2 separate regions of the Homo sapiens genome follow, and region 2 is linked to region 1. The links come from fine-mapping of genetic effects on gene expression. A gene starts in region 1. The other region holds a variant in brackets. All regions are shown on one strand. Distances are between the middles of the regions. Region 1 holds the start of AP4M1 (adaptor related protein complex 4 subunit mu 1). Region 2 overlaps ZKSCAN1 (zinc finger with KRAB and SCAN domains 1).

Evidence for each region. PIP is the estimated chance that this variant, and not a neighbour inherited with it, causes the effect. A credible set is the group of variants that fine-mapping cannot tell apart.
Region 2: its variant is the best candidate, but not a certain one, in a credible set for the expression of AP4M1 in whole blood (TOPMed, PIP 0.61).

Annotation. Positions count from the first base shown.
Region 1 is chr7:100,100,126-100,102,625 of GRCh38, forward strand. AP4M1 (adaptor related protein complex 4 subunit mu 1) reads left to right here and starts at 1,518. Exons shown (of 15, transcript NM_004722.4): 1 at 1,518-1,647; 2 at 1,755-1,843. The coding sequence starts at 1,590. MCM7 (minichromosome maintenance complex component 7) reads right to left here and starts at 1,272. Exons shown (of 15, transcript NM_005916.5): 1 at 1,139-1,272. The coding sequence starts at 1,169. RefSeq lists enhancers at 467-626, 972-1,524, 1,547-1,596 and a silencer at 737-836.
Region 2 is chr7:100,036,961-100,039,973 of GRCh38, forward strand. It overlaps ZKSCAN1 (zinc finger with KRAB and SCAN domains 1), which reads left to right. Exons shown (of 6, transcript NM_003439.4): 6 at 1-3,013. Among named protein-coding and RNA genes, the nearest start is that of ZSCAN21, 11 kb to the right of the region's middle. RefSeq lists enhancers at 370-871, 872-1,371. The variant G/A (reference allele first, on the strand shown) is at 1,384.

The DNA.
Region 1 (2,500 bases):
AACTTTAAGACAAATCTTAGATACCCATTTTCGCTTAAAACACGACCTATGAACTAATTAATAATATGAGCATTTAAATAAACCTACCGAAGTCTCCCCAAAGTGGGCATAACTCTTTTTCACAAGTCTGTTTCTAACCAGCGAAGAATAAAGAGCCCGTGGCAGTGCACAGGGCCATCCAACATCTCCCCAGGGGAATTCCGGTCCCTACTTTAGTTTAAAATTCTAGCGCCCTTCCCCGTTGGCCCCTCACACTCCGGTCTCAAGGTTCTCAGCTTTCTTTCCACCCCTATGATCCCCCGCCTTCTTTGGGTCCCCTTAGCCCCTGATTTCACCGGGACCTCCGCCACCGCACCCCGCCACCGCACCCCACCCCCGCTCCCGCCATCGCTTCCGCTCTTAGTAAACAAAGAAGCACATGGGCCCGGATTCCAGCCGCTTCACAGCTCGGGATTCCTCCGCCCAGGGCGGGAGCCAGTCCAGCCATTGGCCATCACACCCAGAGACACCGCGATCCCAGCCCACTGCCGCCTTTCCCGGGCCCGAGCGAAGCTCCGGATCCCAGGCACGCCCCCCCGGGCCGCAGCTCTCTCCGCGGCCGCCGCGCGGAAGGACACTGTTTACACGACACTCCCTCCAGCCTCCTCGCGCCACTTCCGCCCGGCTCCACTTCCGCTCGGAGGGCGGCCTCAAACGGCCAATCCCGGCGCGCAGCGGCCCCGGCCTGCCCGCCCCCGGGGCCTACGCGCGCCTGGGGAGGGCGCGGGAACCTGGGAATGCCCAAAAGCGCGAAGGAAAGCGGGCACGGGAGCCCAGAGCCCTTAAGACTCTCCTGAGGTCCTGGGCGCGACTTTTCCCTGTGCAGCCCCCAGCCGGGTTAGCGCGCCCCCAAGCCCCCAACCCCACGACCCTAACACCTTTACCAGGTGGGATTACTAGCTTTTCTTCAACATCGATGGCCCCCCGCACGCTTCCCAGGCCCCGTGGGCCTTAGCCAGGCCGCAGCTCGACCCTGCCTCTGGCCTCGCGCACCCCAGAACCCGCCGACCCCGGTCCCCCAAGACCCCAGCTCACACCAACAGGTGTTCCCCGGGAGGCTCCCCGCGCAGGACGCCCTCCCGGGCTCGTAGACCCGTACCCTTCTCTAGCGCGTAGTCCTTCAGTGCCATCGCTGCCGAGGGCCGTGCGGCCGCGCTTGGCGGGCTCAGAGGTCTTGCTCCTGGGGAAGCTGAGAATCTCCGCGCGGTGGACTGTGGCCGGCCAACCGAAATTGGCGCGAAACGTCGCCCCCCACGTGACCGGCGCCACTGCGTGCGGGCCAATCGGACAAGGCGGCCTTCTTCACCTCCCGCTAGCCGCAAGCCAATCACCGTGCGGGCCTAGAATGAGTGACGGGGAGGCGGTGCGGGCGTCGGAAGGGAATCTCCGGGCGGGGTAGTGCAGGCGCCGGGTTTCCCGCGGTCCGAGCTGGCGCGGGCGGAGGAGAATCGCTCTTAAAGGGCCAGCGCACACGCGTTCTTTTGTTCCGGGGCCGCAGGGCGGGGCAGGCCCGACTTTCGCCGTCTTCTTGTCTACTCTCCAGAACGGCCATGATTTCCCAATTCTTCATTCTGTCCTCCAAGGGGGACCCGCTCATCTACAAAGACTGTATCCTAGACCCTTGGGGCTGGGAAGGGGCGGAGGGGCCGGGCGGGAGGGGCGCCCAGGGCCAGCCTGTGTCGCAGGATCCTTCACTGAGTCCTTCCACCCGCCAGTCCGCGGGGACAGTGGCGGCCGGGATGTGGCCGAGCTCTTCTACCGGAAGCTGACGGGACTGCCAGGAGACGAGTCCCCGGTTGTCATGGTAACCAGTGGCGGGAGGCGGGTGAGGAGCGGGGTCCCGTCGGGCCGGGTGGGCGCCAGCTCCCTCCCAGGACTGGTTCATTGGTAGATTCCACTTGGGGGGTGCATTCCGCCAAATAAAGCTAACGTGAGGCCCGGCGCGGTGGCTCACGCCTGTAATCCCAGCACTTTGGGAGACCGAGGCGGGCGGATCACCTGAGGTCAGGAGTTCGAAATCAGCCTGGCCAACATGGTGAAACTCCGCCTCTACTAAAAATACAAAAAAAAAAAAAACATAGCTGGGCGTGGTGGCGGGCGCCTGTAATCCCATCTACTCGGGAAGCTGAGGCTTGAGAATCGCTTGAATCCAAGAGGCAGAGGTTGCAGTGAGCCGAGATCCGGACACCGCACTCCAGCCTGGGAGACAGAGCGAGACTCCCTCTCGGGGTAGGTGGGGGTGGGGAAAAAAAAAAAAAGAGTCAATGGGCGCCAGCAACACACCAGGCCCAGCTCCCTGCGTGACTCCATCCTCAGCAACTCGGGGTAGTTAGTGTAATTAACCCCCTTTCCACATTGGGAAGCTGGGCCCAGGCATATGTCATGTATCTCCCAAAGGCACTGCTGTTGTGACTAGTAAGAGGCATCGGGATCCGAGCTCAGGTCTCCTGGGTTCTGATCA
Region 2 (3,013 bases), 63 kb before region 1:
TTCCTGACTTTGTTGGATAGCTGCCACTAGGGTTGCTTCGATCTTCAGCCACATGCTGTCCTTGAAGCAGCTATTTGAAGATGTGTTTTCTGAGGAAAACAGGCTACAACTGTTTATTAAAACCACTTGCAGTGCATTCGTTTATCAGATGCTCAGTGCAAAGTGTAATTGGGTCATGGTCAAAAACGCTTGCAACATCTAATTGGCGTTCAAGATAGTCATTCAAAAGTTCTTGGCCCGCTGAAGTCTGTTAACAGTTGAAACATTCTACAGTTAACCATTAGCATGCTAGTTGTCCTAATGGAAATTTTTGAAGAGTTTTTCAATATATACCCTACCCTTGCCAGGAAGAGAAGTAAAATCCTCAGGTTGTGGGGTATTTGTTTCTACTCCAGCCTGGCAGGCAAGGCTAAAACCTGAGATTATCGATCTATGAGACATCTTGATATGTAAAGCACTTAATATTAAAGGCATAAAAGTGAAACTGCTAAATATGTATAGAGAGGTTGACGTGTGATACGTGGGACAGTTCACATAGACATCAGAGAATTTATTCCAGAAAGGAGCCTCCTGAATGTGATGAATACGGCAAAGCCTTTAATCACATCTCAGCCCTTAGCATCGGAAAGCTTATACTGTAAATAAACTTGATGAATATTATATGTGAGGAAAACTTTCATGTATAGCACTCATTGCTTCAGACAGAAAATGAATTCCGTCGGTATGTTCCAATCGTGATGAATTTGAGAAACATTGCAAGAGGGAGCTCAATCTTGGCCGGGCGCCGTGGCTCACGCCTGTAATCGCAGCACTTTGGGAGGCCGAGGCAGGCGGATCACGAGGTCAGTAGTTCGAGACCAGCCTGGCCAACATGGTGAAACCTTGTCTCTACTAAAAATACAAAAAAAAATTAGCTGGGCACAGTGGCGCACGCCTGTAGTCCCAGCTACTCGGGAGGCTGAGGCAGGAGAATGGCTTGAACCTGCGAGGCGGAGGTTGCAGTGAGCTAAGATCATGCCACTGGCACTCCAGCCTTGAGTGACAGAGCGAGGCTCTGTATCAAAAAAAAAAGTTGCGGGGGGGTGCTCAATCTTAACTGCAGAGGATCTACAGATGAAAAAAAATGTGGGGAAATGCTTTAAAAAAATAGCAAAATGTGCAACTTCTTACAAAAATTGTTAACGTTAGGTACTTCTATATATTTTATATGACCATAATGTCCGTGTGTGTTTTGTACCTTCAGTCCCTTGTTATTGTTCCGTATATTACCTGTAAGCAGATACTGTATTTTATTTTAGCCTATTTGACAGAACACATCACTCAGAAAAAGTGAAGTTTCAGAGCAAACAGTGAAGAAATCAGTGTGATTGTAGACAAAAAGTC[G/A]GTTCACAGAACGGAGCAGCGGGGAGAGGAAGGGAAAAGCTTCATAGTTTGGTGCTTATCACATCAAGAGATTGGTAAATTTCTGAGGAAAGACAGGCTAATGGGGCACTGAAATGGAACAACTCCTTTAAACGTGCAGCCTTTTGAATTTTTCCTCAAAACCAAGAAGTTGACCTCTGAGCTGTCAGGTGACCACTGTGTGCAAAGGGGATGGATTCTCTTGTCAGTAGACGGTCTTCTCCATGAAGCGAGAGTAGGAAGTGTACTGGAATGGCCAAGTGGGACTGCTTCAGCTGACCAGGTTCTTTTAAACCGTAGTCATGCTTTCCCACTAACTCTTAAATCCTTATGCTTAGAAAATTGAGGATAAGGCTGGGCACAGTGGCTCAGGCCTGTAATCCCAGCACTTTGGGAGACCAAGGCGGGTGGATCACAAGGTCAGGAGATCGAGACCATCCTGGCTAACATGGCGAAACCCCGTCTCTACTAAAAATACAAAAAAATAGCTGGGCGTGGTGGCGGGCGCCTGTAGTCCCAGCTACTCAGGAGGCTGAGGCAGGAGGATCACTTGAACATGGGAGGCGGAGGTTGCAGTGAGCCAAGATGGCGCCACTGCACTCCAGCCTGGGTGATGGCGTGAGACTCCATGTCAAAAAAAAAAAAAAGGTTGGGGGGAGGATAGGACTGGCCAGGCACGGTGGCTCACTCCTGTAATCTCAGCACTTTGGGAGGCAGAGGTGGGCGGATCACTTGAGGTCAGGAGTTTGAGACCAGCCTGGCCAACGTGGTGAAAGCCTGTCTCTACTAAAAATACAAAAATTAGCCGGGCGTGGTGGTGGGCGCCTGTAGTCCCAGCTACTCAGGAGGCTGAGGCAGGAGAATCACCTAAATCTGGGAGGCAGAGGTTGCAGTGAGCCGAGATTGCACCACTGCACTCCAGCCTGGGTAACAGAGACTCTGTCTCAAAAAAAGAAAAAAAAAAAAGAAAGAAAGAAAGAAAATTGGGGATAGGAGAACAGCAAGGTGGGCATTTCCCGGAATTGTGTGCAGATGCATCCAGTCGTGGCATTGCAAGAAGTCTGTCTGATGAAGCTCGGGAAGCATTTTGCAATATTCCCTTTGGCTGTGTTCCTGTGTTCCCTGCTCCCACTTTTCTTCCCCTGGTTTGTGATTATTAGGAGAGAGGTTTTGCAAAGACTCGTTGCTGTGAAAGAATCTTTTTTTAATTTTTATCCTAGAGTCAGTCACTTTTATTCCAGGTAGTCATGCTGATCTGCTTATCCAAAGCCAGCTAACCAGGTTCATCCTACCATCCTCATGGAAGACTGTGTGTATGAATTGGAGTAACAGAACTGAAATACACTTAAACAGTGACAGCAGTACTTCCCAGGGTGGGGGCCATATTTCTCTGTGTCCTACTCTGAGCAACTTCTCAGAGATACGAGGGGGCTAGGGTTTTCCCATCTGGGAAATGGGGTGAAAGTCTGCAGATTGTTAAATGAAATATAGAATCAGAGAAAAAGAAAAGTCAGTGATATAAATAGATCATTTCATAGAAATTAGGGTAGATTTTTATTTCAACTACTACTGGAGAATTTAATAAAAGGCATTATTTGAAAAGTTTTTCTAA